Homo sapiens: one gene and its partners. The protein of the gene in region 2 purifies or fractionates together with the protein of the main gene of each other region. This does not show direct contact. Each region holds a gene or a part of one and is shown on either strand. Other genes may lie near its edges.

The links.
Region 1: the proteins of POLR3GL (region 2) and CRCP purify together in Homo sapiens (co-immunoprecipitation; 4 studies listed by BioGRID and IntAct, with this or other methods). This does not show direct contact.
Region 3: the proteins of POLR3GL (region 2) and OBSL1 purify together in Homo sapiens (co-immunoprecipitation; 3 studies listed by BioGRID and IntAct, with this or other methods). This does not show direct contact.
Region 4: the proteins of POLR3GL (region 2) and POLR3H purify together in Homo sapiens (co-immunoprecipitation; 5 studies listed by BioGRID and IntAct, with this or other methods). This does not show direct contact.

The regions. Positions count from the first base shown.
Region 1 is NC_000007.14:66,124,556-66,132,017, reverse strand, and holds part of CRCP (DNA-directed RNA polymerase III subunit RPC9), read right to left. Parts: intron 4,315-7,462; coding exon 4,278-4,314; intron 1,892-4,277; exon of another isoform or gene 1,770-1,891; intron 1,275-1,769; coding exon 1,176-1,274; intron 1-1,175. UniProt on the Homo sapiens protein: DNA-dependent RNA polymerase catalyzes the transcription of DNA into RNA using the four ribonucleoside triphosphates as substrates.
Region 2 is NC_000001.11:145,959,385-145,967,715, forward strand, and holds the start of POLR3GL (DNA-directed RNA polymerase III subunit RPC7-like), read left to right. Parts: upstream 1-5,305; 5' UTR 5,306-5,384; intron 5,385-8,331. Other genes in the region: ANKRD34A (ankyrin repeat domain-containing protein 34A), read right to left, coding at 885-2,375. UniProt on the Homo sapiens protein: DNA-dependent RNA polymerase catalyzes the transcription of DNA into RNA using the four ribonucleoside triphosphates as substrates. Specific peripheric component of RNA polymerase III which synthesizes small RNAs, such as 5S rRNA and tRNAs.
Region 3 is NC_000002.12:219,554,515-219,561,976, reverse strand, and holds part of OBSL1 (obscurin-like protein 1 isoform 1 precursor), read left to right. Parts: coding exon of another isoform or gene 1-93; exon of another isoform or gene 94-255; intron 256-2,479; coding exon 2,480-2,752; intron 2,753-3,517; coding exon 3,518-3,793; intron 3,794-3,866; coding exon 3,867-4,154; intron 4,155-4,358; coding exon 4,359-4,634; intron 4,635-5,253; coding exon 5,254-5,523; intron 5,524-5,684; coding exon 5,685-5,957; coding exon of another isoform or gene 5,958-5,980; exon of another isoform or gene 5,981-6,828; intron 6,829-7,236; coding exon 7,237-7,462. UniProt on the Homo sapiens protein: Core component of the 3M complex, a complex required to regulate microtubule dynamics and genome integrity. It is unclear how the 3M complex regulates microtubules, it could act by controlling the level of a microtubule stabilizer.
Region 4 is NC_000022.11:41,527,469-41,534,930, forward strand, and holds part of POLR3H (DNA-directed RNA polymerase III subunit RPC8), read right to left. Parts: intron 6,220-7,462; exon of another isoform or gene 5,506-6,219; intron 5,278-5,505; coding exon 5,191-5,277; coding exon of another isoform or gene 5,136-5,190; intron 4,690-5,135; coding exon 4,626-4,689; intron 3,421-4,625; coding exon 3,219-3,420; intron 1,869-3,218; coding exon 1,815-1,868; 3' UTR 1,146-1,814; coding exon of another isoform or gene 1,011-1,145; 3' UTR 555-1,010; coding exon of another isoform or gene 433-554; 3' UTR 1-432. Other genes in the region: ACO2 (aconitate hydratase, mitochondrial precursor), read left to right, coding at 433-554, 1,011-1,145.

The DNA of each region.
Region 1 (7,462 bases), on a different chromosome or scaffold from region 2:
AGCCAGAGGTGGGCGGATCACATGAGGTCGGGAGTTTGATACCCGCCTGACCAACATGGAGAAACCCTGTCTCTACTAAAAATACAAAATTAGCCGGGCAAGGTGGTGCATGCCTGTAATCCCAGCTACTCGGGAGGCTGAGGCAGGAGAATCGCTTGAACCCGGGAGCCAGAGGTGAGCCGAGGTTGCGCCATGGCACTCCAGCCTAGGCAACAGGAGCGAGAATCCGTCTCAAAAAAAAAAAAAGAAAAATGATTTCAAAATAAAAAGATTTTTCTTTTTTTTCTTTGATTTGCAATGATGTGATGCTTTCTCATGATTACACAGATTTTGTGGCTTTTGAGGAAGAATATAGATAAAATTTCGGAGGAATTATAATTACATATTTTGGAAGGAATCTCAAACTTGAAAAATAATAGCCTTAAGCGTGTAAGTTCCCAGCACTTTGGGACGCTGCAGTGGGAAGATCCCTTAAGCCCAGGAGTTGGAGACCAGCCTGGACAACAACAACAAAAAATAGCCAGGCGTGGCAGTGGATGCCCATAGTCCCAGCTACTTGGGAAGCTAAGCTGGGAGCATCACCTGAGCCTAGGAGGTTGAGGCTGCAGTGAGCTGTGATCCCCTTTCAAGGAGAAATGAGGGCAATCTTTTACACTATTCCTTCTAACTTTGTAGCTGGCTAAACTCTAAACTTGACCAAACTCCTCTCACTTCTATAAACAGAATAAAAATTAGGTTAGAGTAGGCTGGGCGCGGTGGCTCATGCCTGTAATCCCAGCACTTTGGGAAGTCTAGGCGGACGGATCACGAGGTCAGGAGATCGAGACCATCCTGGCTAACATGGTGAAACCCTGTCTCTACTAAAAATACAAAAAATCAGCTGGCCGTGGTGGAGGGCGCCTGCAGTCCCAGCTACTCGGGAGGCTGAGGCAGAAGAATGGCATGAACCTGGGAGGTGGAGCTTGCAGTGAGCGAAGATCACACCACTGCATTCCAGCCTGGGCGACAGAGCGAGACTCTGTGTCAAAAAACAAACAAACAAACAAAAATCAGGTTAGAATAAAACATTCAGATCATATAAAAAGCAATCTTAATTTCAGCTGCCAGTCATTGGGAGAATAAACCCCCCTCCCTCAATGGTACTTTAGGTAGGCCTGGCAGAAGCCCAGCCTTACTTCATAGGTGATAGTGTTCAAGTTCTGTTGCCCAGAGCTGTGTTTATTCTTTCCACTTTCTTTACGCTGCTCTTTCAGATCAGTTAGTAACTGAAATACCTAGGAGGAGATACAAAAAAGACGTTTATGAATAAATTTGAGAAATATATCTATCCAAGGTCAGTGGTTTTGAAGGATAAACAGGAAAGTATAGTACTTCCTTTCACCCGCCCATCACCCAGCTTCCAACTCTTGGATTTGAGCAAATATGAGTCCCAGAGGCATATTACATTTTTAAAAAATGTTCTTTTATATAAGCCAAATAATTCAAATTCATTAATTTACTTAAAATATTTCAAATATTTCCTATCAATATGTACATCACTAATCTGATCTCAAAAATATACTATTTGAAAGCAGATTTTCTTAAAGCAAATATTTTGTTAAAAAAGAATTCTGGGTCCAGGCATGATGGCTCACGCCTGTAATCCCAGCACTTAGGGAGGGTGAGGTGGGCGGTTCATGAGGTCAGGAGATCAAGACCATCCTGGCTAACACGGTGAAACCCCATCTCTACTAAAAATACAAAAAATTAGCTGGACATGGTGGCGGCACCTGTAGTCCCAGCTACTCGGGAGGCTGAGGCAGGAGAATCACTTGAATCCGGGAGGCAGAGGTTGCAGTGAGCCTGGATGGTGCCACTGTACTCCAGCCTGGGTGACAGAGCGAGACTCCATCTGAAAAAAAAAAAAAAAAAAAAAAAAAAGAATCCTGCTTCTCTAGTATAAAAATCTAATATAATAATTTCTTTCTGGAAAAGAAAAATTTTGAGGCAAGTGATAAGACAGAGTTTACCCCCCAAAAAAGAAAGGAAAAAATGCTATGGATCTTTAGAAGCAAACTTTCCCACAAGGATAAAACATACATGTATTAGTGCTGGGGGCAGGGGGGAATCTTAGTCTCATTCCTGTTTTAGAGATTCTACCACAGAAGTGAAGAAAATGCAGGCTCACACACCATCACCAGATACAATACGACCCCTCTCATCTGCTGGTCCTTTCAGAAATAGTGGCATGAGATCAATGAATGCAATGTTTCCCCAATGGATAAAACACCCAAACACCTAGCAAAGTCCAAACTGGACAAGGAGGCTCCTAAAAGCCAAAGGCTTGGCCAAAAACCATTCAACCATTTCCTTCCTGTTCTAAGCTGCAACCACTTAAGACTGAGCCTTTAGAGAGGAAAGAATATGGCCAACTCTGTTTATTCTACTACCTTCTTTTTTGTGGGGCGGGGGAGGGGAGCACCACAAGGGGGTAGGTTTCTTTCTTTCTTTTTGCTGTCTTACACTCTGGGAGCTTTTTTTTGGGGACACGGTCTCAAAAGCTGTCTCCCAGACTGGAGTACAGTGGTCATCACTGTAACCTCAAACTCCTGGGCTCAAGCGAACCTCCCCTCTGCCTTCCAAGTAGCTAGGACCATAGTAGGTGTTTGCTACCATGTCCAGCTAATTTATTTATTTTTATTTTTTTTGAGACGGAGTCTCGCTGTCGCCCAGGCTGGAGTGCAGTGGCACAATCTTGGCTCACTGCAGGCTCCACCCCCCGGGTTCACGCCATTCTCCTGCCTGAGCCTCCCGAGCAGCTGGGATTACAGGCGCCCGCCACCTTGCCCGGCTAATTTTTTGTATTTTTAGTAGAGACGGGGTTTCACCGTGTTAGCCAGGATGTTCTTGATCTCCTGACCTCGTGATCCGCCCGCCTCGGCCTCCCAAAGTACTGGGATTACAGGCGTGAGACACCGCGCCCGGCCGCTAATTTATTTTTTTAAGAGCTGGGGGTCTTGCTAGGTTTCCCAGGCTGAGCTCTAACTCATAGCCTCAAGCAATCTTCTCTCCTTGGCCTTCCCAAGTGCTGAGATTACAGGCGTGAGACACTGCACTTAACCTACTACCTTCTAGACCTCCTGAGTCTTTCTGAGTTTAGACTCTAGCACATGGAAAATTCACAGTCAAGGTATAAATGGTTCTTTCTACACCTGGAGTGAGCCTATCAGATGGTTTTGCTAGTGCCAAATAGGAGGCAAAAATGCTGGAATATCTCCTCTCTTACCAACCTTTTTCCTTCTTTTCCTTTCTCCAGCAATCCCACCCTAAGCCCAAAAAATTCTACATTTCTTAATTTCTACTATTCAGAAAGGTGAGTCAACTAAACTCACTCTCTTTTTTTATTTTTTAAGTAGGGATGGGGTTTCACCATGTTGGCCAGGATGGTCTCAATCTCCTGACCTCGTGATCCGCTGGCCTTGGCCTTCCAAAGTGCTGGGATTATGGGCATGAGCCACTGTGCTCGGCTTAAACTCACTTTCAAAATAAGGATGTTAATACCCATAAGACTATTTGCAATGTATAAAAGCATTATAAATATATAAATATATCAAAGGTGATAATTAGGAAAAATCATAAAAATTTTAATGGGAAATTCTGCAGACAGAAACAGCCTTAAAATAGATGCTTCTATCCTATGACTACATCCCAAATGATGATTTGGAATCGTTGAGATTTAGAGAAGGTTGCCCCCTCTAAAATAGAGTCTTCCCAGCTTTCCTGAAGTACTATGTATAACGTGTCAAGCTTACACTATTCCAAGGTCCACCAGATGTTGCCATGTCTTATTTTAAAGTGGAAAATCCAAATAAATTCAGTCATTTCTTTTTTCTTTTTCTTTCTTTCTTTCTTTTTTTTTTTTTTGAGACAGAGCCTTGGTCTATTGCCCAGGCTGGAGTGCAGTGGCACATCTTAGTTCACTGCAACCTCCGCCTCCTGGGTTCAAGTGACCCTCCTGCCTCAGCTGGGATCCGAAGTAGCTGGGACTACAGGCATGTGCCACCACACCCAGCTAATTTTTGTATTTTTTAGTAGAGACTGGGTTTCACCATGTTGGCCAGGCTAGTTTTGAACTCCTGACCTCAAGTGATCCAGCCTCAGCCTCCCAAAGTGCTGGGATTACAGGCGTGAACCACTGCACCCAGCCTGAATTCAGTCATTTCTAACCAAAATCAATTTAACAATCTCAGGAGCGAAGGGCAAACTATCAGAGAGGAAAATGTAACAATCCAATTTACCTCGTAGTTACTGAGAAGCGCAGAATTGGCATCCTTCCTGAAAAAGAAAAGTAAGCTATCATCAGTCTGGGCTCACACCCCTTTCTGGGTATCAAATTCTGTAAAAGAATTCCTGTCAAGATACAGTAGTCCACTTTTTGAATTTAGGGACTACAACCTAAAATTGAAACTGAGAAATGTCCTAAGTCCAACATGGTTTAGCTAGCTGTGGGCAATTTCAGAGTAGACTTGGGAACAAAGTGCTGTCCCATCCCACAGCCATGTCCTCTCCCCATTACTATCTGCCTCCCATCAGCTATTGACATCTTGGGCTGCCACGTCCTCCTGCTGAATCAACAGAAATGGCCCACTTAACACCAATGTCACCACTGGGAATTCCAGCCATGGGCAAGTATCCTGCCAAATATCTGCCATGCTCCCAGGGTGTTCACCACCTACGTCAACTCAACAGGTACAGTCAGGGTGGCAAGCAGTGGCCAAAAGCCTGGTTCCCTGTGTAACAGTTAATCCAGGCAATATGCCATCTTTCCTGAGTGAAGAAACACAACGATGTGACATATATTAAATCACAATCGATCCACTCTACAATAGCATATCAGAAAGCATTGTTTTCAGCAGTCTGGAGGCAGTGGAGTATGACAAAGAACATAGTTTTGAAATCAGATTTGGGTTCATGTTCTAGCTCTGCCACTTATGTGCTGTGAGAATTTTAGTTAAGTTAATTACTCCTTAAGTTTTCCTTCTAAAATAAAAATGGGATGAAACTAGTATCTAAAAGTATGGCCTGGATTCTAAATCCAGCTCCTGAATTCTTTGGCCATGTGAATCTAGGCAAGTTACTTAATCTCATTATGCTTACATTTCCTATCTATGAAACGGCAACTATAGTATCAACCTTGTAAGACTGTTCACAGGGTTCACTGGAAACATGTAAAGTACTTGGAACATAGTAAGTGCTCAATAAGCACCAACATTATCACTACTACTATCTGGGCAACTACCACTACCACCAGCAACTCCTACCTCATCAAACTGTTATGATAAAATGAGACAACAAATTTTAAAAGTTTAGAATAGTTCTTGGTACTTGTATTAACATCTCCATAATGGAAGGCTATTATTTGTAAAAGATATTATCCCAGTTAATTCTCACTGAAAACCCTGTGATGTAGGAGCTATTCGTATGATTCCTACTCTGCAGAGATAAAGCACAAGACTCAGAAATTAAGTAACTTGCTCAAGGTCACACAGTAAGAAGTCTAAATAAAGTGGAAGGTAACTATGGAACTGTGGGAAATGAGACTGAACTGGATGAATGGAAACTGGTCATGCAGAATCCTTAAAAATCAGGTAGAGGGGTCTGCACTTGATTTGTAATGTGCAACAGAGACCTCTGTATGTTCTTAAACCAGGAGTGTGGCGAGATGATCCAAATGATGACCCAAGACTTCAAAAGCATGGGCCAGATAGGTGACTTCCGAGTCAATAAATAAAGCAAAACTAACAGTGGTTCACAAAGAGATAGACCTCGGCCTTAGGTCATCAGCACAGTGATGTCAGCACTATAATCAAATCAGCTCTGTGAAGCTTACCAAATGCTACCAGTGATTCAAGCTACGATTTCACAAAAGTGCTGCTTTGCCCAAATGACCACAAACACACTGAAGTCACAAAGAGTATCATATTTGAAAGGAATCTAACACAGGAAGGACAATGCATAATTAGTGCATGTGACAGAGTTCATTTAAAATTGAAAATGACAAATCAAACCACATGTCATCTTTGCCTGCTTAATCAGGAAATCTGCCCACTGGCTTCCTCCTATCTTTGCTTGAAATTGAGTTATAACTCCCTGTGCTCTCCAAAATATGAGGCATTAAAACATCCCTTCCTGGAATACTTGACTCGAGAAAAAATATGAATGTTTTTTCTCTTCAGGGCCAATGGATCCATCGCAGGTGCACTGTTACAACTTTATTTCCAAATAATGGCCCCTTCTCTGTCATTCAGAATATTCCACGTCGTGGGAAATTTGTCCTTGGCCATTCCAAGTTACTACCCCACTAAACAAGTCAATAGTGTAATGCAAGAATCCAAAGAACACCCTCTGCCTCTTCTAGAACGAATATAAAGGAGGAAAACCCTCTTTCACATAAGTTTTAATGAATCTGTGTTTTGGGATCAAGAGAACCAATTGATGTTTACACAGGTACTCTGTGTAACAGACTCTGGCTGACAGAAGCTGATTTATTCATTGATTTTATCAGGAAGATAAATTTTTTTAAAACCCAGCTAAATATTCACAGAATAAATGCCAATCAATGTATGCTAGGCCTTTCCTTATTTAATAAAATGTCAAGAGGTACTTTATCTACCTTTTATGAAGTCCTAAACGAGCTGTATGTATTGGGGAATTTTTTTAAAGGCAGTTTTTATCTTTGAGAAGTTACTGTAACCACCACTAAACGACAGGTTGTTGGCAACAGGATATGGTGAAACCAGACAGACATCAACTTAATCAAGTTATCCAATTTCACAGCACCAATGATGTGACGCATGAGAAAGACACATCCCTCAGAGCAATCCAGCCCCAAGATGTTTAATTCAAATCTATCCATGAGGATATAATCAGAGAATTCCAAATTGAGGAACAGTCTTCAAAACAACTGGGTTAAATTTAGACTCTTCAAATATCAATGTCATCTGTCACAGTGCCAATGTCACAAAAAGAAGCTAAGGAAACTTCCAGAGGAAAGGAAATTAAAGAAACATGACAACTAAATGCAATGTGTAGTTCTTCACTGGATCCTGAATTGGGAGGAAAAAGAACACTATTATGGCAACTGAAGAAATGTGAGTTTACATTGTATCTTAATAATAGTAGATTATCATCGCTAAGTTTCCTGAGTGTGATAAGGCGACTGTAGCTACATAGAATGCCCTTTTTCAAGAAGGGGTGAAATGATCTGCTATCTACAACTCTCTAATGGTTCAGTAAAGTAAGTGTGTGCACCTGTGTATGGAGAGAAAGCTCATGCCTGTGCAAAAGAAATAAGGGAATGCCAGGCATTGTGGCTCACACCTGTCATCCCAGCTACTCCGGGCTGAGACAGGAGGATCACTTCGTCCCGGAGTTTGAATCCAGCCTGGGCTCAAGTGTCTCTAATCAAAAACAAGAAAGGAAG
Region 2 (8,331 bases):
CCTCCCCATTCCTCATTCCCCATACCCACACCTCCAGGCAGAAGTGACAAAACAGAGACTTCTGAACACATTTATTTGATATGTCAAGTGGAGAGAGGAGTGATTTAGGGTTTCTCCCCACTTCTACCTGTGGGGGTGTTCATAAGCTCAGACAGACAGAAGAGCAGCTTAGAGCCCATGACCCACCCCCTGGGAAAATGAGACAATCTGTTGTAGTTGTTGGAGGAACAGGGTGGGAATAAAAAGCAGGAAGTTGAGAAGTGAAGTTGAGAGCAGTAAAGACAGCAGCAGAACTGAGGCTGGGGGTTGCTGCAGGAACCCCCAAGAAGAGTGAAAAAGATATCCTGAAAAGTGGTTGGGGTTAGAAGCAGGGTGTGAATAAGGAGCCAGGCCTGGAGAAAGAAGCAAGACCTGCAGAATGGGCTGGGATGTCCACGGAGAGAGTGTGCAAAATCATGATAGGCTGTGTTTCAGGGCATACATGGAAAGCAAGGGATTGCTTCTGCAGGAGGGCAAAGACATCGGAGACTGCCCATAAGTAAGGGTTCCCTACTGCTTCTGAACAAATGCAAGAGAGTTTGGGACCCTAGCCCTGTGTGTTTATTGATATGCTGTGCCTGTAGGTACACAAGTAATCCCATATGCATGTGAAATGACCAGGGCATGAATACATGTGTGTATATACCCAGTAAATAGAGTACTTATTCTTTCTTGCTAATAAGAGTACTGTGCTTATGGACACATGTTTAACCATGTGTGGGTGCACTGTGCACCCATGAGCACATGCAAGAGATCCCTTTGTTCGTGGTGTGTGTGTGAGCTGGTTCTCCCACCTATCCCATTAAGGTCCTAATCCCCACCCTCCTTGGCTCCTCTCACTCCTCTCAGCGCCCTGGCTCCCCAGGCCCACCTAGACTCTGGAAGCCCCCCAGCAGGCGGATCTGCTCAGTCTGCATGGAGTGGCGTCTCACCAATTTGCGCTTGGTCCTGGGAGAGCCTGGCGCCCCGGCATAAGGAGGGGCAGGCAACGAAGGCGCCCGACCTCCGGGTTGTGGGCGAATGTCAGGGATGGGAGGGTGGGGACTGACGTTGAGAGGGGGTAGGAAACCCGGCCGCGTTTGCGAGATGTGGTCCAGGAGCAACGTCCCCGAGCCCCTCCGCTCCAGCAGCCCCGGACTCCGCCTCCTTCCGCTTAGCGGAGATACTGCCCCTGGCAGACTCTCCTGGGACTGGCGCGGAGAGGGAGCCGAGCCGGCTGGAGGGAGGGTCAACGGGGAGGCGCTGTATCGGCGGCGCTCCAGGGACAGGCGGCTGGACTCAGGCGAGTCAGGGCAAAGGTGTCCAGGGGTGTCCAGCTCCACTGGCTCCATGCGGCTCAGTTTCTGCCTCAGCCCTGAAGGGGGACCAGACTCCTGAGCTTCTGGTGCTGTGTTTCGGCGAGAGAGAGGACCCCCGCTAGTCACTTTCTCCGCCCATGGGGGCGGGTCCTCAGGGCCTTCGGTGCTGTGACGTCGGGAAAGACGGGGTCGACCGGTCAGGGTCAGGCCATTGAATTCGGCAGTCAAGCGCTCGATCCCCGGTCTCCCTTCAGTGGGTGGGACTGGTTGAGGAGGGGCCACTAGGCCCCAGGGCTCGGAGTTGAGCCTTTTGAGTGGTTTTGGGGGATGGCGTGGTGGTTTGGGGAGCGGCTCGGAAGGGGATGGGTCATCGGGGGGCTTAGGAAGAGGGAATTCAAATACGTCCCGCTTCTCCTCTTCTTCCTGGGCGCGAGGGGATAACATCCCACGCCCTCCTCCTCCAGCGGTCTGCAGTTGGATTTCCGAAGGCGACGTGCAGAACCCCGGGCTAGGAGAGGCGGGAGCAGGGTCCTCCACCCCTGGGGATGGTGGAGAATTGAGATACTGCCGGGTCTTCTTGGTGCCTGAGGGCGAGGTATCGGTGGTGATGATGATGACCTCCGTACCCTTGGCCTTGCAGGCGTCCAGCAGTGTGGCAAGGGTCTCGCGGTCCCCGCGGTCCAGGGCGTGGACAAGAGCCGAGGCGCCCGCGTGATCTCGGACTGAGGGGTCTGCGCCGTGGGCAAGGAGCAGCGAGGCCACCGCGGCGCCCCCACCCCCGGCGCAAGCGTGCATGAGCGCCGTGCGCCCTAATCGGTCTGCGATATTGGGGTCCGCGCCTTGCTCCAGGAGGTAGCGTACCATGCGTGCCTTGTTCTGGGGGTCGTCGTAGCGGGCCCGACAGGCTGCCATTAGCGCAGTCTCCCCCTGCGCATCACCCTCATTCACGTAGGCGCCTCCCTCCAGAAGCAAACGGGCCAAGCGTAGCTTACCCTGACCCACCGCCCGAAGAAGAGCGTGGCCCTCGGTGTGCAACATAGCTGCGGCTGGGGCGAGGGCACAGATGGAGCCGGGACTGAGACCTGCCGAGGATGACTAGGGGTATGGGGAGGGGGAGTGGCTGGCAGAGGCCTGAGGTCTCAGTGACGAAGCCGATCCCTGCAAGAGAGACATCTCATTGATAGATTCGGCAGGAAAACTGAGGCACAGATGCAGGGACCCAGCGTGGGGTGGAGGAGACCTTCACGGCATACAGTCCTTCCTCTAACTCATGCCTTTGAGCCGGCCCTTCCCCCGCAGCGCATGCCTGAGGAGGTGGGAAGGGTGCACCCGCACTGAAGGACTAGCGCGCGTGCAAATGCGTTCGTGCACGCGCAGGGATGTCCGCACCCCCACCCTCACCCCATGGCTTATCAGACCTTTCCTCTGTCCCCCTTGTCTTATCCACACTTGGGATCCCCCTTTCTAGGATGCTGAACGCCACCCACCCACATACATGCACCCTACAGTCACACATGTATTCTCATTCCTAACCTGTTTTAGCTTGCCACAACCCCAAAAATTGAGTGGGGGGAGGGAAGCAGCCTGCATTTGAGACCTAAAACGGGTGGAGGGAGAATTGGGGGGTTCTATTGCCCCTGCGATGTTCCCCATCACTCCTTGCTCTTTCCCCTCCCAGGCTGTGTGCCCAGATAGATACCTGAATGTCCGCAGAATCTCCGCCTGGCCAGGATTGGGGCCGTGGCCACGGGGCAGCCGAGGTGGCGGAGCCAGTTTCCTGGGGGCCCGCATGGCGTGGGGGGGGGGGCACCCGGATTCCCTTGGTGTCAGTATCTGCGCCCCGGCGCCGGATCCTGGTCCCTCCTCCCGGAGCGCCCCGGGCACAGCGCCGGCTCGGGAGGAGAGAAGCTTGGCGGGGGGGGGGGGGGGGGGGGGGGCGGAGCTCTGCTGTGCTATTTATAGCCTAGTCACTGCGGGTGGGGGCGTCAGGCACCAAACTGCTCCCCCACTCATGCACACATAAACCCTCAAAAACCTAGAGGCTCCAATCCTGACTTCCTTTTCTCAGCCGACCTCCCCTCAGCCCCAACAAACCTAAGTGTTCCTTAGGGGACTCCTCCGCGACCCAGACAGGGACCATCATCCAGATTCTTCGCTGAGATTCAGCAGATCCCCATTCTCCGCACTTGGTGTGTTTGTGCGCTCCTGTGCGCCAGACCTGACCTGCCATACACGGCACATGGCACACTGTGTAAGAAAGGTGTAGAAAGGCTTTTTGGATCCACAGCCGGTGTCCATACTGTGCAAAGAGAGGCAAGAGATGTGGCTTTCTTCCTGTAGTTTAATTGTGAAGGAGATCACGGTCCAGCCTGGAGTCAGACACAGATACACCCCCGCCCCATCTCTCAAAAACGGAACACCCATCGCAGAGAAACTTGGACCTCAGCTCCCTTATGTAGACCTCTTAGATAAGTATGAGGAAGGTGGATATGGGAGCACTTTTAGATAAGGCAAGGGACATTCCAGGTGCCTCCACCCCGTATTATTGTGGGCAGGGAGATAGGACAGGGGCAGGAAGAAGAGCGAACCTTGTAATACACTCTCTCACATTGCATCTCTTTAATCTCAGTCTTGCTTAGACGTCTTATTTTTTCCATCTTGCTTGACGATCTCTGTCTGAAACATTCCTTATATCTTCTCTCTTCCTATCTGTCTATTGGTCTCTCACACTGTCTCTGCCTCTCCTTGCCACCTGCCCTGTCTCCATGGTTACCATAGCTTCCATCCACATATTTTAGGAATGAGTTTGTGTCCAGCTGGAAGGCACCAAGGGAAGTGGGAGAAAAAGAAAAATCCTAAGGATTTAAAAAGTTCACTCAGGGTCCTGAGCTAATTCAGAGGCTGGAGGCCCCCCAGATGCAAGATACTGAAAATAATGTTCCCGGGGATGGGAGAGAGAGAGAAATATTTGCAGGAAGCTACCCATTTTTACTAGTTATTTCTTGGACACGTGTCAACTATGTGCCATGTGCTTTACATACACTATTTTCAATCCTCACAACTTTATAAGATAGGAACTATCATCTTCTTGTTACAGATGAGGAAACAGACTTAATAAGGTTAAGCAAGCTCTCCAAAGCTTCACAGCTATGTTTCTGTCCTATGGCAAAGACTGGGAGCTTGCCACTACACCTACAGCCTCCCAGTCTACAGGCCATTTTCTCTGACATCTGGGATGTTCTTCTTGACTAACTCCTAGATTTCATCTCCATTCTGAACCTTTCTCCCTTGTTTCTGCTTTCTGTGAAAATAGGACTCCTCCTTCCACTCTGCTGGCTTTCCCAAGGAGCTCGCAGGAAGTGGAAAGTAGTGGAAAATGCAGAAAAAGCTGGGCTCCTGCCCTGTCTCCCCAACCCTGGTACGCTGATCCCAAATCCTTCCTTTCTTGAACCCTCTGCCCACCTTCTCACAGACACGGCAGCAACCCACAGAAAAACATTTTTAGAAAAGAAGTATCCATTGGTGGTGCTGGAGAGAGGCAGTGTATGATTGAAAGGAAGGCTGGAGTAATGGAGAGACCAAGCTATGAAGCTAGAGTCACAAAAAGACTGATCCCTAAAGAGCAGCTTTTACAGAGGTTCATTTCTCCGTAGGCCCTCTCCTCCTTTGGCCTCTCTGTAGGGGCTCCCTCAACACGGTCCCTCGATGAGATATGAGTGTCACGTTCCCTCGGTGAACTCTCGCCGGCTAGTGGCTCCTTCATCTGGAGTGAGACCGGAAATAAGTGACCCCAGCTGATTCTGCAACGCCCATCTCTCTCTGCGACCCGCTTCGCAAGCTTCGGTTCCGGGCGTACTCGCTCCCTCCCTCCTTCTCTTCCTAGGCTTCAAGAGGGCGGACTTCCCTCCTCGGCTTCTCCTGCATTGGCCGAGAAAACTCACCAATAGGGAGCTCCGGGAGGCGGGCTTAGAACGCCACCGACTTGAGGAAGCCCAGTACATTTCAAGTTGGTCGCGGCTTGGGCTCCGCTTTGGGGAGGGGCAGCAGGTAAGGCTTGACCTGGTTCGGTCCGACACTTGCCAAACTTGTTCACCCCGGCCAGGCTGCGAAATAGACAACGCTTTCCGTCAGGTTGTTGGATCAGCCCCCTTCTGGCTCCCTACCGTTTCTCCCCTGGGCTTCCATTTCTGTATTGATTGTATACTAGAGAATGGCAGTTTTCTATCGCGCATGGGGAGAGACATTAAAGCAGAAAACGAGACAGCCTCTTGTATCTGTCTTTGCTATAGCATCAACTTCCCCCTAATCTATTAATATTATCCCAAGAGCCTGACAAACTCCTGTTATCTATGAAGACTAGCTGAAATGCTACCTGTAGTTTTCCTGGGCCGCCTTTCTTGCAAAATGAATTGTTCCCCCGTCTACGATAGCGTTTTGTATATACCTTTATTAGGACACTTAGTGCACTGTCTCTCTTTAACGTTTCTATGCCTTTTAGAATAGAAGGTTTTGTAGGACAGGTGCTAGTAGTTAATATATAGTGCCCAATAAACGTTAGTTAAATAGAATTGATTTCTGGTAACTAGCACTCTTTTTGGGGAGGCAGAATTTAAACTCCTAACATAACTAGGGAACAATAAAAGACAATACAGTATGTAATTAAGAGCCATTAAATTAGTGGTTCATAATATTAGTGTTTCATAATTGTTTCTACAATCTAGAGAAGGAAGAAAGCAAGGAGAACTGGAATGGTGAGGGGAGGCTTTATGGATCACAATTTCTCAAGTTTGGAAAGGCCCATAGAAATGATGTATTTATTCATTCAATAAATATTTATTGAGCACCTACTATATGCCAGACACAATGCTAAATCATGCTGATCATAGGGAATCCTCTACTAGAGCCATGCATCCTTCTTACAAACCCTATGTAGTAAATTTTTACCCAGCTTCTATGTAAACATCTTTAGTAAGGGAACTCTCTTATCTCTCTTGTAGATCATTCAATTTTTTGATACCTGTTCTTTAGTCAATATCCTACAAATATTCTAAATAAGAAATATATAGCTAAAGGAAATGCATTCCACACTTCCACTGTAAAAGAGGGAAATATGGCTGGGCACGGTGGCTCATGCCTGTAATCCCAGCACTTTGGGAGGCCGAGGCGGGCAGATCGCCTGAGGTCGGGAGTTGGAGACCAGCCTGACCAACGTGGAGAAACTCTGTCTCTACTAAAAATACAAAAATTAGCTGGGCGTGTTGGCGCATGCCTGTAATCCCAGCTACTGGGGAGGCTGAGGCAGGAGAATCATTAGAACCCAGGAGGCGGAGGTTGCAGTGAGCTCAGATCGCACCATTGCACTCCAGCCTGGGCAACAAGAGCAAAACTCCCTCTCAAAAAAAAAAAAAAAAAAAAAAAAAGGAAATCTGTCCTTTTACAGTGGAATTGGTAGCATTCTTAAAAGCAAGCCATTTCTGGCTGGGCGTGGTGGCTCATGCCTGTAATTCCAGCACTTTGGGAGGCTGAGGTAGGCAGATCACTTTAGCCCAGGAGTTCAAGACCAGTCTAGGCAACATGACAAAACCCTGTCTCTACAAAAACTACAAAAAAAATAGCCAAGCATGGTGTCTCAGGCCTGTAGTTCCAGCTGCTCAGGAGGCTGAGGTGGAGGGTTGCTTGAGCTGGAGAAGTCGAGGCTGCAGTGAGCCAAAATTGCCACTGCACTGCACTTCAGCCTAAGCGACAGAGCAAGAACCTGTCTCAAAAAAAAAAAAAAAAAAAAGAGGCCGGGCGTGATGGCTCATGCCTGTAATCCCAGCACTTTGTGAGGCCAAGGCGGGTGGATCACGAAGTCAGGAGTACAAGACCAGCCTGACCAACATGGAGAAACCCCATCTCTACTAAAACTACAAAAAAAATTAGCCAGGCATGGTGGCGCATGCCTGTAATCCCAGTTACTCGGGGGGCTGAGGCAGGAGAATCACTTGAACCCAGGAGGTGGAGGTTGCGGTGAGCTGAGATTGCGCCATTGCACTCCAGCCTGGACGACAAGAGTGAAACTGTCTCAAAAAAAAAATAATAAAATAAAAAGAACATAAATAAATAAAATGGGTATTTTTTAACCATTCATTTATTGTTAGATTGTTTCAGTTATTTCAGAATTTTTGCTACCATAAATAGCTCTTTGATGAATATCCTTTTACTTATATCTGTGACTGTATATCTGTTGATGTCTTTGGAATATATTTTTAAAGTGGGATTGCTGGATTAGGGATATAAACATTTCAAAGGCTGTTGATTTAACTGGACAAATTGCTCCCCTTGAAATATTATGTTTATAGTCTTTCCAGTGAGGTATGAGAGTGTCCATTTGAAAAAAAACTCATGACAGCCTGCTTATTATTTAAATCTTTGTCACTTTCATAGGTGAAGAGTGGTTTTATTGGCCATTCTCTCTCCTTTTTTTTTTTTTTGAGACAGTCTTGCTCTGTTGCCCAAGCTGGAGTGCAGTGGTGAGATCTCAGCTCACTGCAACCTCCACCTCCTGTGTTCAAGTGAGTCTCATGCCTCAGCCTCCTGAGTAGCTGGAATTAAAGGTGTGTACCACTGTGCCTGGCTAATTTTTTGTATTTTTAGTAGAGACAGGGTTTCTCTATGTTGCCCAGGCTGGTCATGAACTCCTGGCCTCAAGTGATCTGTCCACCTCGGCCTCCCAAAACCCTGGATTACAGGAGTGAGCCACCATGTCCAGACATGGCCATTCTCTTTGCCAGTTGCCTGTTCATGTCCTTTGCCCATTTTTTCTATTGAGATGATTTTTTAAAATTTGGATTTCCAAGATTTTAAGGGTGTTAATTTCTTGCTTTATTTATTACATGTATAGCAAATTCTACACATCAGCGTGCCCCAGGCCTCAGTGCCTGGATTTCTTATTTTCTCTGTCCACATCCACTCCTTTAGGGGTCTCACCTAGTCTCATGGCTTGAAGTATTGT
Region 3 (7,462 bases), on a different chromosome or scaffold from region 2:
AATCCGGAGTTATGCGTCCTCTTGAAAAAGCCGAAGACCCGGCGGCTCTGGTCCCGCTTCCCCCCATGGCGACGAACAGCTGGCACTGAGTAGCAGCTGCCCCCATAGTTTGGGGCCCACATTCCTCTGTCCCACCTCCCTGCCATTGCTTTTTGCCTCTCCCCAGACTGCTTCAGCCGCTAACCTAACCTGGCCCCTGTGGGCATTTGAGTTTGCGACCCCTGTGTTAAACCAATAAACATGCAAATAAATGTACAGTGACACCTGGTGATAAGTACTGTGAGGGCCAAGGGCAGAGGGCTCAAGAGCACAGAGCAGGAGGGTCAGGGAGGCCTGGGAGAAAGTCACCCTTCCACACACGGGAGCCAGCAGCACGCAGACACGGCCGCTTCCCTCTAGGACTGCACAGCCTGGCAGGAAAGCCAGACGCATTCCAGGATCTTAGAGCATGGGTTGTTGAGGGCCAGTCTAGGGACCCTGGGGCTGGGAGCCACCACCCTGGCCAGGCAACAGGAAGTGCTTTCAAAGCTGATACTGGAGCTAAGTGGGGTGGGGTGTGGGGGAATATTCAAAGCGGGAGAAGCACAGGACAACTGTGGAAGTGACGGAGGTTCAGTGCCGGAGACCTCGGGGTGACGGCTCACAGCGCCCAGCCCAGTGTGTGTCTGGGGCTGGGGGTCCATAGGGCTAGGCAGCTCTGGGGGGCACAGAACCCCAGTGGCTGCACTGGAGCCCCCATCCTACTGCGGCCACAGTCCTGTCCTCTCCCAGCCCTGCCCTGAAAGTCACGCCCCATGCAGAGCTGTTTAGGGCCCCCCTGCTCCTTGCACCCCAGCTAATGCACTCTACACACACAAGCCCACAATGCCTAAGAGGCCTTCTGCACATATTCTGCCCTGTCGTAATCATCTTCACCCTCTCCCACCCAGCCATGGCCAGACAGAATGGCCACAGCCACACAAACTCCAGCCCATGCTCAGGCTCCCCACAAACACCAGTCTCTTCACAGGGAAGTTCACACAAACACCACCTCTGCTCTAGGCCAGAGCGAATCAAGTCTGACACCAAGCTGAGGTCCCGGGGCTGGGCAGCCACCCGGTCCCATCACTGCACCCTGTCCTCACCCCACTGCCCTCATCACCTTCCCCACTCCTCAGGCAGCTGCATTCTGGTCTCTCCTGGCCTTGCTCGGCCCCAGAGGACCAGCCTGCATCCCCCAGACCCTTAGAGCAAGCAAGCCCATGGGGGAGGTGGGTTGTGTGGCTCAAGGCAGGAGTCTCCGTGGAGGCTGGGGGGCTGAGTGGGAGCTTGTGGTTACCTCGGCCCATGCATGCCCCTATAAACCACCCCCAGCCCCCACCCCCCCAACCCTGGCCCCTGATTGGGAAGCTAGCAGTTCCTCAGCCCAGCCACCAGGGGGCCAGAGGCTAATGGAGCAGTAGTCGCCCCAAAACTTGAAGATTCTGGGGGGACCTGGGGGCAGCAGGGGTGTGGGCAGGCCTGGGCTCCATGCGCTGGTCACCTCTAATATTGACATGGTTCCCTTTCTGCAGAGGAGTGACCAGAACTTGGAGATGAGCTCCCAGAATCAGCATTTAGCACCCCTGGGGAACTCTCAGACAGACGTTGAATGCAAAAAGCATTACTGAGTTCCTGCAAGCCTTGGCTTGGAATTCCTGCCACTACCTGTGGGGTCTGAGCCTCCCTTTAACAGAGGGTATTTCCTCCTCCTGCCCCAGAGTGGGTGTAGCCAGCTGTGACCTTAAGGAAGTTGTATAATCACTCTGTGCCCAGTCCCTTATATGGAAAATGGGGACAAAACACTACCTTCCTCTTAGGATTGCCGTGAGAGTTAAATGTTTCAAGTGCTTGGGACTGTTCCTGGACCTTAGGAAGTGTCATATCAATGTTTGCTATTGTAGATCCACCATCCCTTATCCATGGTTCCAAAATTCCAAAACTCTCAAAATCAAAAGGCTTTTTGTAAGTTTTGTATTCCAAGTCATTTCAGGAAAACCTGAGCTTGATTGCTCTGAAGCTATTTCTATGCTTTAATTATCCTGCTGAGGGTGAATATAGCTATAGCTGTATATCTATAAGATATGAGTGTCTTATAGATATATGCTTGTATCTGTAAGATTCTGTATCTTTCAATCTATCCTGCTTAGGGTGAATGTAGTATGTGTTATACCACAGACATGTTAACGTGACCGATGAAGGGGGAGGCTCCCGTGGGGGCTGAGGAAGGTATGTGATAGATGAGAAACGCATCATTTCTGGAATCCAAAGCATTCTGGATTCTGTAACACCCTCTGGCCCCAGGGATTTCAGAGAACAAACTGTGGACCTATTATTGCTTATTATTATTTTACTTATTATTCTCATTATTATGTGGGTGATAGGGACTTCATGCTGCCGAATGGCTCCAGAGAGGCTGACGGTGAGCTTGTGACAGGCTGTGGTTGTCCCCACCCTGCAGAACCCCCAGTGCGGATCATATACCCTCGCGATGAGGTGACCTTGATCGCCGTGACCTTGGAGTGTGTGGTGCTGATGTGTGAACTGTCTCGGGAGGATGCCCCTGTGCGCTGGTACAAGGATGGGCTGGAAGTGGAGGAGAGCGAGGCCCTGGTGCTGGAGAGGGATGGGCCACGCTGCCGCCTGGTGCTACCTGCTGCTCAGCCCGAGGACGGGGGCGAGTTTGTATGTGATGCTGGAGATGACTCGGCCTTCTTCACTGTCACTGTCACAGGTGGGCAGTCTCTGCAGCACAGAGAGGAGGTAGAGAGGTAGGGGGCTAAGGGACAGACACCCACCTAGCCCCACCTCCCCCACCCCATCCCCAGCCTTCCCCTTATCCAGCTTCCTCATGTTTGGCCATCAGAATCCTGCTTAGCCACATCAGGTCAGGACCAGAGGCCTGGTGGGAGGGTGCCCAGCAATTAGAACCATTCGTTCATTCATCCATTCGTTCAATACTCATTGAGCAACTACTATGTGCTTGGCACTGTTTTAGATGCTGGGGATACAGCAGTGAACCAATAAGACTAAACCTCTTGTCTTCACAGAGTTTAAACTCTGGTGAGGGTGGACAGACAAAAAATAAAAGAGATGGTTTGTCAGGTGGTAACAAGTGCATCAGAGGCAAGGCAGGGAAAGGGGATAGGAAGTGGGGATGGGTGTGGAGTGGGGTGTGTAGATCTGGGTGTGAGTCTAGATCTGCCTCTTTCTGTCTGTGTGACCTTAGGCAAGTCAGTTTCTTCTAAAGAGGCCTCAGGTCCTCAGCCATGAAGTGCAGCCAGCAGCTGTGCACCTCTTGAGGGTGGTCAGAGTAACTGATTGAAAAAACACAGGGTTCTTAGGACAGTGCCTGGCACACAGCAGCTGCTCCATGGACTGCAGCTGGCACTGTTCTCAAGAGCTGTGCTGCCAGTGGGGAGGGCTGAGGATCTGGCGGGTGAGGCAGGAGAGGCCTGCTGGCCAAGCCTATGTGCCCCTCTCCATGCCCACCCACCAGCCCCACCAGAGAGGATTGTGCACCCGGCAGCCCGCTCCCTGGATCTGCATTTTGGGGCTCCAGGGCGCGTGGAGCTGCGCTGTGAGGTGGCCCCAGCTGGGTCTCAGGTGCGCTGGTACAAGGACGGGCTGGAAGTGGAGGCATCAGATGCCCTGCAGCTGGGTGCCGAGGGGCCCACCCGCACCCTGACCCTGCCCCACGCCCAGCCTGAGGACGCCGGGGAGTATGTGTGTGAGACCCGGCATGAGGCCATCACCTTCAATGTCATCCTGGCTGGTGGGTGCTCCTGGCCAACCCAGGGCAGGGAGGCAAGGGCAAGCATGGGATGACACCTTCCTCTCTTCTCCAGAGCCTCCAGTGCAGTTCCTTGCTCTAGAGACAACTCCAAGCCCGCTCTGTGTGGCCCCTGGGGAGCCAGTGGTGCTGAGCTGTGAACTGTCCCGGGCTGGCGCCCCCGTGGTCTGGAGCCACAATGGGAGGCCCGTGCAGGAGGGCGAGGGCCTAGAGCTCCATGCCGAGGGCCCCCGCCGAGTCCTCTGCATCCAGGCTGCAGGCCCAGCCCATGCAGGGCTCTACACCTGCCAGTCTGGAGCAGCCCCCGGAGCCCCAAGCCTCAGCTTCACCGTCCAGGTGGCTGGTGAGTACAGCCTGGGCATTAAGCCTGAGAGTGGCACCAAGCCTGAGAGTGGCACCCCAAACTCTGCGGGATTCCTGCTTTTCCAGCATGCCTTGCCCATCCCTGGCCCCACTTCTCTCAGTACCTTCCCCGTCATGCCTCCCCGTGCCCTCCTCAAAGCCCTGAGCCTCTCCCTCCCAGTGACCTCCAGCTCTGACTCCACAGAGCCCCCTGTGCGGGTGGTAGCTCCCGAGGCAGCCCAGACGAGGGTTCGGAGCACCCCAGGCGGGGACCTAGAGCTGGTGGTGCACCTCTCCGGGCCAGGGGGCCCTGTACGCTGGTACAAGGACGGGGAGCGACTGGCAAGCCAGGGGCGGGTGCAGCTGGAGCAGGCCGGGGCCAGGCAGGTGCTGCGGGTGCAGGGGGCACGGAGCGGGGACGCTGGGGAGTACCTGTGCGATGCGCCCCAGGACAGCCGCATCTTCCTTGTCAGCGTGGAAGGTAACAGTGTACCCCTCACACCCTGTGGGCTGTGGCACCCCAAGGACCATCTGCCACTTTCTAGGGCCCCCTTACTCCTCCACCCCCGCTTTGCTGCTTCTGGCTCCAACCAGTGCGTGCATGACCATCACTTGGATAGGGGCTCAGGGCTCCTCTTTCCAGAAACCCTCATGTTGAGAGCAGCATAAACCAGTGGTTAAAAGCAGGGGCTCTAGAGTCCACCCAGCCAGGTTCCAGCCTAGATTCTGTGCCCCAGTAGCTGTGTGACATTGGCCAAGTTGTTCAACCTGTCTGAGCCCCGGCTCTGAAAAGAGGGGATAGTGCTTTTCTTATAGGCCTGTTGTGACAAGTAAATGCTGTAAATAGGGTCCCTGGTAATTGATATTATTAGGGTGCCACCAAGGTGGGGTGCTAGGCTAGGATTATGAGGAACTGACTAAAAGGAGTGGCAGGGAGCTGGCATCTTGTCCTTTGGGCCATCGGTGTGGTCGATACATAGTAGGTCCTCACAGAAGGTCTGTTAAATGACTGGGGACGAGGGCCTGCATCCTGAGGAGGGGATGAAAAGGAGAGAGAAGAAAAGACTCAGCCCAGCTCACTGCCTTACCGTGCCCCTTAGAGCCACTGCTGGTGAAGCTGGTCTCGGAGCTGACACCACTCACTGTCCACGAGGGCGATGATGCCACGTTCCGGTGTGAAGTCTCCCCACCAGATGCCGATGTCACCTGGCTGCGCAATGGGGCCGTCGTCACTCCAGGGCCCCAGGTGGAGATGGCCCAGAATGGTTCAAGCCGCATCTTAACCTTGCGAGGCTGCCAACTGGGGGATGCAGGGACCGTGACTTTGCGGGCAGGGAGCACGGCCACAAGTGCCCGGCTCCATGTTCGAGGTTAGGTCCTGATGAGGATGAGATACTCTGTGTCCCGTGCCTGTACTCCCAACCAGGATTCCAGCAGCCTTGCCTCTCCACCTAGGGACAGACCAGTGGGATGGAGCAAGGGGCCAGCCTCCAACCCCACCAGACTCCATGGCCTCCTTCTTCCCCACCAGAGACAGAGCTGCTGTTCCTACGGCGGTTGCAGGATGTGCGGGCAGAGGAAGGCCAGGATGTGTGTCTCGAAGTGGAGACAGGCCGAGTGGGTGCAGCGGGGGCCGTGCGCTGGGTGCGAGGTGGGCAGCCCCTGCCCCACGACTCTCGCCTGTCCATGGCCCAGGATGGGCACATCCACCGCCTCTTCATCCATGGTGTCATACTGGCCGACCAGGGCACCTACGGCTGCGAGAGCCACCACGATCGCACCCTGGCCAGGCTCAGCGTGAGGCGTGAGTGCCCCGTCCTCTCTTAATGCATTACCCACCCTACACCACAGCCTTTTCTGGCTGTCCTGGAGTCCCTCAGGCCCCCACCAAAGTGCCCCTCATCGCTGAGAAAAGTCACCCATGGCCGTCCCAGCAGCAGCTTGCCCAAAGCAAAACTTTTCTTTTTCTAATATTTTTTATTTACCTTAGAAGTCCATGTGGATTTTGCATTCCATTGCATATTTCCAAGTCGGCTTTGCTATAAACACAAATATTCTCCAGAAAGACTTGCCATGGGCATCCTTCAGGCATGTATTCTAGGGATACACATACCCACTTAAGTAGCAGGGATGGCTGTCAAACAGCACCCCACACCTCCCACCCAAAGCTGGAGCCCTCTGTTTCCTATGTGACCTCATGCAAGTTAACCTCTTTGAGCCAAGTCTCCTTAAAAATGGGGCTGAGACCAGGTGCAGTGGCTCACGCCTATAATCCTAACACTTTGGGAGGCCAAGGCAGGAGGATCCCTTGAGGCCAGGAGTTCGAGGCCATCCTGGGCAACATAGCAAGAACCCATCTCCACAAAAAAAAATAAAAATTAGCCGGGCATGGTAGTTACTAGGGAGGCTGAGGCAGAAGGATTGCTTGAACCCAGGAGGTTGAGGCTATAGTGAGCTATGATCATGTCACGGCATTCCAGCCTGGGTGACAGCAAGACCCTGTCTCAAATTTTAAAAATGGGGTTGATCCCCGTCTCAAGTGTCTCTGGGAACATTAACTGAGATAACATGAAAATTCTTACACAGAGCTTGGTGAATGGTTGTCATTTGTGACACATCTCTTCTAACTTATTTCATTCAAGAAATCATCACAATAAACCTGTGTCCCAATGTTATTCACCTTGTACAGCTGGGGCAACTGGGGTCCAGAGAGGTCAGGCCATTTGCCAAAGATCACATAGCACACAAACTATGTGGTAGAGCGAGGTTCCATTCCTAGTGTGTCTGACTCCAAATTCCGTGCTCCTTCAAGTGTCACAGCACCCCTCACCCAGACTCCACGACCCCCTAACCACACTTCTCCCCCTTCCTGTGCCCTCATCTCCTAACCCTGATACAGCCCTCCCCCCGCCAAATCTGTCCACCGTGCTCCTTTCTTCCTGCACCCTGGTTCCGAACTTTTTTGGTCAGGACCTTAGGTTGGGTGTTCAGGGGTGTAGGCAGGGCCAAGGGATGAGGATTGACTGCAACCCCTGCCCAGAGCTGGAGGCCTCATCCTCCCTCTCTCCATCTCCCCCGGCCAGCGAGGCAGCTGAGGGTGCTGCGGCCTCTGGAGGACGTGACCATCAGTGAGGGGGGCAGTGCCACCTTCCAGCTGGAGCTGTCCCAGGAAGGTGTGACCGGGGAGTGGGCCCGGGGTGGAGTACAGCTGTATCCAGGACCCAAGTGTCACATCCACTCGGACGGCCACCGTCACCGACTGGTACTCAATGGCCTGGGCCTGGCCGACTCAGGCTGTGTCTCCTTCAC
Region 4 (7,462 bases), on a different chromosome or scaffold from region 2:
CAAGGTCACTCTCCCTGCCCGTGGCTGAGTTGGGCCTGGTTCTAGGCTGTGTCCACTGCAGCCCACAGGCCCGTCAGCCTCTTGCCCCTTCTTAGGCTCACACAGTGCACATCCGACGCTCAGCTTCCCGGCTTCCCGCAGGCCCTGCTTCCAGGCTTGTAGATCTGAGCCGCTGAGATCTAGGACATGTGCCAGGGGGTTCTTTCTGATCATGAATGTGCAGCAGGAAGGCCTCGCAGACCTCAGCACCAGCGCACACTTGCTAGGGGCACCCCTAGTGAAAGGGAGCAGACCAGGGCCCCATAGTCACTGCCCGGGCATTGTCCCAGGCAGCAGGATTAGGGGCATCTCCCAGAGCCCCAGATGGGTTCAGAAAATGAAGCTCTCCAGGCTAGTCAGGCCCCCGATGACCGAATGCCGCCTGCTTTCCAGAGACCAACCTGAAGAAACAGGGCCTGCTGCCTCTGACCTTCGCTGACCCGGCTGACTACAACAAGATTCACCCTGTGGACAAGCTGACCATTCAGGGCCTGAAGGACTTCACCCCTGGCAAGGTTAGGGGCCCGGGTCCCCCTGAGGTGGTGGGGTGAGGGGCAGCCACCTTGTTTCCCCTCCTGCACTGGCCCCAGGGTAGCTTCTCCCAGGAGGCTTCATTCCAGCTGGAAAGGCCCCCAGTTCTCCAGGTGGCCCCACAGAGAAAGCAAAGTGGCTTCTCAGAGTTGGGGGTTGGAGTCAACCCGGGGCCCTCACACCTCCCCAACCTCCCTTTACTCACCAGGACCTGGCACTCAGGGGACAGCCCACCCACTGCAGGACCCTCTGGGCCCCAGGAATCCCCTGTAGGTGCCACCTGGGTCTGACCTGGGCCATCAGGCACAGACTGGCCTAGGATTTGGTTTGCCTGCTGACCTCTTAGGTCCCCAGGCAGTGCCCTGTCTCCCTGACCCCCCTGCGGGGCCAAGGGCACACAGTACCCACCACTTCCACCCACACCCACCTTCTCCTTGCAGCCCCTGAAGTGCATCATCAAGCACCCCAACGGGACCCAGGAGACCATCCTCCTGAACCACACCTTCAACGAGACGCAGATTGAGTGGTTCCGCGCTGGCAGTGCCCTCAACAGAATGAAGGAACTGCAACAGTGAGGGCAGTGCCTCCCCGCCCCGCCGCTGGCGTCAAGTTCAGCTCCACGTGTGCCATCAGTGGATCCGATCCGTCCAGCCATGGCTTCCTATTCCAAGATGGTGTGACCAGACATGCTTCCTGCTCCCCGCTTAGCCCACGGAGTGACTGTGGTTGTGGTGGGGGGGTTCTTAAAATAACTTTTTAGCCCCCGTCTTCCTATTTTGAGTTTGGTTCAGATCTTAAGCAGCTCCATGCAACTGTATTTATTTTTGATGACAAGACTCCCATCTAAAGTTTTTCTCCTGCCTGATCATTTCATTGGTGGCTGAAGGATTCTAGAGAACCTTTTGTTCTTGCAAGGAAAACAAGAATCCAAAACCAGTGACTGTTCTGTGAGTGATTGGTGTCTGTGCCGTTTGTTGTCAAGTCCAGGGTCCAGGAAGGGTCTTTTCAGTCAAGGTCAGTGGAGGCCCAACAGCCACAGCCACAGATGGATCCATCACTGCAGTGAAGGAGGAGCAGGGCCTAGATGGTGGAGGAGCGGGGCAAGCTGGTGGGCACTCCTGGCCTTGCCTCACTGTCCAGCTCGAGACACTATCTCCTTAGCATCGGCCTCAGCTGCTGTTGTCTTCACAGCCGGCCATACCACCTTCCCGCAGGCTGGTAGGGTCCACTGTCCAGCCCCAGGGCTAGTTGCTGGTCCACCAGGAGAGAAGGCCCAGGCCTGGCTCACTGATGGATCCCTGCCAGGGATAAAGAACACGCACATTTCACTGACATGCTGGCTTGAACCAACCTGGACAGGAGGTGAAGGGAGCCCAGCAGGCCCAGCACAGGCAAAGAAGAGGCGGGGCACACGGCAGCCAAGAGGCTCTGGAGAGATGTGGGAGCCACAGCAGTGCTCCCAACGGGCACGCAGCACGCAGGGCGCAGACCCTTCTCCAGGGACTCCAGGCCCTGATAGGGTCAGGGACCCTTCCTCACCCTTAGGCCTGCCCTCCAGGGCCACCTAGGTTCTAATCGTGGCAGGAAGGCTGAGCAAACACAAGGCCCATGCTCCAGACGCATCCAACAGGGAGCAGCCTTGAAAGCCACTCTTCCCCGGAGCCCTCCCTTTTATTTCACTGCTGCAATGCTGCTCCTACAGGGAGCCCTACCTTTTTTTTGTTGTTTTTTTTTTTTGAGACAGTCTCGCACTGTCACCCGGGCTGGAGTGGAGTGGCACGATCTTGGCTCACTGCAACCTCCACCTCCCGGGTTCACACCATTCTCCTGCCTCAGCCTCCCAAGTAGCTGGGACTACAGGCGCCCGCCACCACACCCGGCTAATTTTTTGTATTTTTAGTAGAGATGGGGTTTCACCGTGTTAGCCAGGATGGTCTCAATCTCCTGACCTCGTGATCCGCCCACCTTGGCCTCCCAAAGTGCTGGGATTACAGGCGTGAGCCACTGTGCCCCAGCAGCCCTACCCTTAATCTCAGGGCTTTGATCTCTCCCAAGCCCCTTCCTTGATTTCTTTCTCCCTCAAACCCCTCCCTACCCCCCAATTTTTTAAAGATAGCATTTCATTGTGTTGCCCAAGCTGTAATGCAGTGGCACAACCTTGAACTCCTGGGCTTAAGGGATACTCCCATCTCAGCCTCCCAAGTAGCTGGGACCACAGGGCACGCCACCATGCCCTGCTAATTGTTTTTTATAGAGACAACTTCTCACTTTTTTAGCCAGGCTGGTCTCAAACTCCTGGCCTCACACGATCCTCCCACTTTGGCCTCCCAAAGTGCTGGGATTATAGATGTGAGCCACTGCACTTGGCCTCAAAGCCGCTTTATCAGTGGTCTTGTCCACCGTGAGCTCTGTCCCCTTTGCAAGCTGACTCGCCCACCCCACCAGCAGCCATGTACCTTTACTGCCTCACAGCCCTGGCCTACAGAAACTCAGGCTCTCCAGGGAGAAGTGACCAGCCAAGACCCCCCAAACAGGATCCCTGACCTGCTGGGGGAGATCCCAGAGCAGAAGCCCCAGGACACAGCTTCCAGCCCTGCACTCCGGCTCTCCCGCCTCATGGGGGCTTCAGCACCATCAGAGCCACTCACCACAAGCGTGTACGGAGCCTCCTTCTTTGGCAGCTCCTCACTGGAAGTGGTGGCATCTGCTGAGCTGGGCCCTGTGGGGGACGTGTCAACAAAGCTCTCGTCCACCACCCGGAAGCGGATCTCCTCGCCGGTGTCCATGTAGAGGTCGTGTGCTCCTTCCTCCGTCTCGTACTCCCACACCCACACCTGCTCCGCTTCGTCGCTGAGGGGGTCCAGGGTCAAGGCAGCAACCAGATAGTGGGAGGGGCTTCCCTCAGCACCCACTCCCCGACCCCGCAGGAAAAACCAATCTCAGGGTGAGATCACTGTGGCTGGGAAGTCACAGGAAAAGCAGGTCCCAGCCCCATGCACAAGGCCTGGGCCAAACAGAGAGGAACAAGCGCTCTTGGAGGCCAGGACCCAGGAAGGGGAACATGGGGTCCCCAGCCAGGCACCACGGCCAGACGCACATGGATCTCAGAGCACCAGAGCAGGAGGGGACGAGACAGGGTCCGAGTCCCACCTCTCAAGACAAGAGCAACCTGGGCCTCCTGCCACGGAGCCCCACACACCCTTTTCATCAAAGCCTTGTGACAGGCTGATGGGCACCCAAGGACTTGCCGTTTTCAAGAGGACATAGTGGGATGGGAGGTCACCTGCCCACTTGGATGACAGGTGGTGAGAGAACCAGCCGGGCTGCGCCAGGTTTTCTAACACATCCTGGAGTCACATGCAGACCCAGAGCCGTGCTGCCACCCAGCCAGGGCAGTCCCCCTTGGCTCTCCATCGTCCCTGGCAGAGCCCACACAGGGGAGCCATGGGTTCTCTGGTGGCAGTCCCACTGTTGGGTCCTGCCTCTGTGCCAGGTCCCGTGCTGTGCACCGTGGGTACAGCTGTGACATGTCAGAGTCCTTCCCAGTGAGGAGCCTCAGATTTGTGGATAGCCCCACAGAAACAGACAACCCCAGTACAGCAAGGTGAGGGGTGGGACAGGGACAACGGAGGCCCAGGAGGAACACATCTTAGCCCACGACCCGGCACACAGGCAAGGCCTCACGTCCCAGGGACCAGTGCATGCCTCCAGGGCAAGTGATCTTTAAGATGATTCCTGCAGGGACAACCTAAGTGAAGTGAACCGGAAGTGAATGGTGTCCCCCAGGACACCACAGCTCTAATGGTGTGCAGTGTACAACCCAGACAGCCAAGCCTGATGGCCCCGACAAAGACAGGCATGTGGGCATCACATGACTCCCTGCATGGGAGGCACAGACAGGCTGGTGCCTCTGGAGCAAAAGCACAGGCGAGGGGCAGGCACAGAGGCCAGTGACATCAGGTTACAGGCCCCAAAGGCCACCCTAAGGAGTGGGGACCTTCCTTTGGAGAGGCCTGAGCTCCCTGTGACAAACCACTTTAACCCTTGGAGGATACAACTTGGCTGGCTGCTGCAGTGACTCTGGGGGGATGAGAATGTCATCGAAGAAGCCTAGAGAGACTGGAAGGAAGGAAGCAGGTGACGGCCTGAGATGGGGGTCCCAGTGGACGCCAAACACTGCGGGGTCTTATGCTTGACAGGCAAGCCCTGCCTGGGGCTGCCCACGAGGCGGATGTCGCTGTGGAAACCTAGGCCCCTTCCCCACCTAATGCCTCTGCGTACACCACCCACATAGCGGAGCAGCCCTGGGCAAAGCCCGGAGCACCTAGTCCCCAAAACCTCTGCACACAACAGGGGCCAGTGGGCGCTAAAGACTCCCAGTCACTTCCGCCAGCTTCAGTGCCCACCCTGAAGTCCTGAGTGACGGCCTCACAGTGAAACCGCACTGCTGATGGAGGTCCTCACACAACACATAAAAGGGAGGGTGGGCAAGCTTCTCTGACACCACGGGGAAGGTTCGGCCTCGACACCTGAGCCCTCCCCTGACCATGTGGGTGGACACAGACCTCCTGCCCCCACAGTGTTCCCAAGTCTTGTCTGAGGCGTCAGGGCCACTGTTACCGTGCACTCCTTCTGGGCTGCAGCCTTTGATCTTCCCAATGAGAATCTCATCTAGGAATGGATGAAACACCACGCAGCGAAAATGGACTGGAAATGAAGACAGCCCATCAGTGATGCTGACCGGGGCCCCAGTGCGCTCCCATGTCACCCTCAGGTGCCAGCACACCTGGGGGCCTGTGTGGCTGCTCCATGCCACATCCCCCTGCAAGCCTAGACCCTCCCTTTGTCTCCTGCAAGTTCACAGCATGGCCCCCACAGGGGGGCAGCAGCAGCTGTCCTGTAACTGGGCACTCCCAAAACTGCCAGGTTACTCACACCTGAGCCCAGATTCTGAGCCATCAGTGGCTCCAAAGTCAATTTCAACCTCCCTCCAGGCTCTCCTTCAGCTCCTAAAAAGGGCAGAAGCAACTGGTAAAGAACGCAGGGTTTGGAAACTCCCACCTCCTGCTGAGCAGCAAAGTCGGCCCCAGGCACAGCTCTGACCTGGAGAGGAGGCTAAAAATGCCCTGGTGTTGTGAGGCGCAGGCCAGCAGCCCAGCAAAAATGCCTCTGTGGGTTCTCAGGCCATGCTGCAGGTGGTCCCCACTCACCTGACTGCAAGGAAAACACCAGGTGGGGTCTGTGCCCACATCGCACACTCTGACCCCAGGCCCTGGCATTAGCTGTATGTCACCTTGTCACTCAGGCCCTTGCTCGAAGCCCCAAAGTAGGAGTCCAACGCTGACCTGAGAATCAGCACGCGGCTGCCCCCTGCTGGTTACCAACAGAGTTCCCACCGTGAGGATAAGGCAGTGGCTCAGAGCCAGGGTGACCCACTCACAGCCACATAGCCATGGGGAGACACCTGGTCTTTCTGTACCCACCAGACAGGGCCACCGGGTCGAATCTTGCCTTCCTCAGACAGGTTTAATCCCAAACACAGGCTTCCACGATGCCGTCAACCATTTAGTCGGCCAACATGCCCCCCAGGACGGCAGGGACCCTGGCATCAGCAGGGCATGAGGAGAGGCAGCCGATGGACCTCTCACCCTGGGAAGACACAAACGTGAGCCATCACAGCCACCATGAAGATGACTGGGCCTTGTGCTGACCTCCCAGAGAGCAGATGAGGGCGGCCAAGGGCCACTTACGCACAGATGGAAAAACCCTGTCCCCCACATGGCCCAACATTCAGTTTGGTTTAATAAATCCTCACAGAGGCCGGGCGGGGTGGCTCAAGTCTGTAATCTCGGCACTTTGGGAGGCCGAGGTGGGCAGATCACCTGAGGTCAGGAGTTTGAGACCAGCCTGGCCAACATGATAAAACACCGTCTCTACCAAAATACAAAAATTAGCCGGGTGTGGTACCAGGTGCCTATGATCCCAGCCACTCAGGAGGCTGAGGCAGGAGAATCACTTGAACCAGGAGGTGGAGGTTGCAGTACGCCAAGATCATGCCACTGCGCTCCAGCCTGGGCAACAGAGCAAGACTCCGTCTCAAAAAAAAAAAAAACTTCACAGAGCCTGCACCAGGTTTGTGCCAGGCCCAGTCTGGGCACTGGGCTCACGGGGGTGGGACAGCACATGATCCTGCGCCCAGGGAGCCCCAGGCTGGAACAACCACATCCAAAAGCAAATGCTGGGCACCCGGAGTCCCCCATGGATGGATGAGTAAACAAAACATGCTGGAGACACACAATGGAATATTATGCAGCCTTACAAAGGAAGGAATTCTGACATGCACTACAGTGTGGCTCAACCTCGGGCTGAACCTTCACATGGGGCCAAGTGAAAGCAGCCAGACACAAAAGCCACACAGTGTGCGACTCCATTCATGTACAGTGTCCAGAACCACATCCATAGAGACAGAAAGCAGTTAAGTGGCTGCCAGAGGCTGGGTGAAGGACAGGATTAGCAGTGACTGCTACTGGGCGGGGTTTCTTTGTAGGGTGATAAAAACGCTGTGGAATGGCCCCGCGCACGGTGGCTCAAGTCTGTAATCCCAGCACTTTGGGAGGTCGAGGCGGGCGGATCACCTGAGGTCAGCAGTTCAAGACCATCCTGGCCGACATAGTGAAACCCCGTCTCTACTAAAAAAATACAAAAATTAGCCAGGCGTGGTATTGGGTGCCTATAATCCCAGCTACTTGGGAGGCTGAGGCATGAGAATTGCTTGAAACCAGGAGGCAGAGGTTACAGTGAGCTGAGACTGCGCCATTGCACTCCAGCCTGGGCAACAAGAGTGAAACTCTGTCAAAAAAAAAAAAAAAAAAAAATTGTGGAATTAGATAGT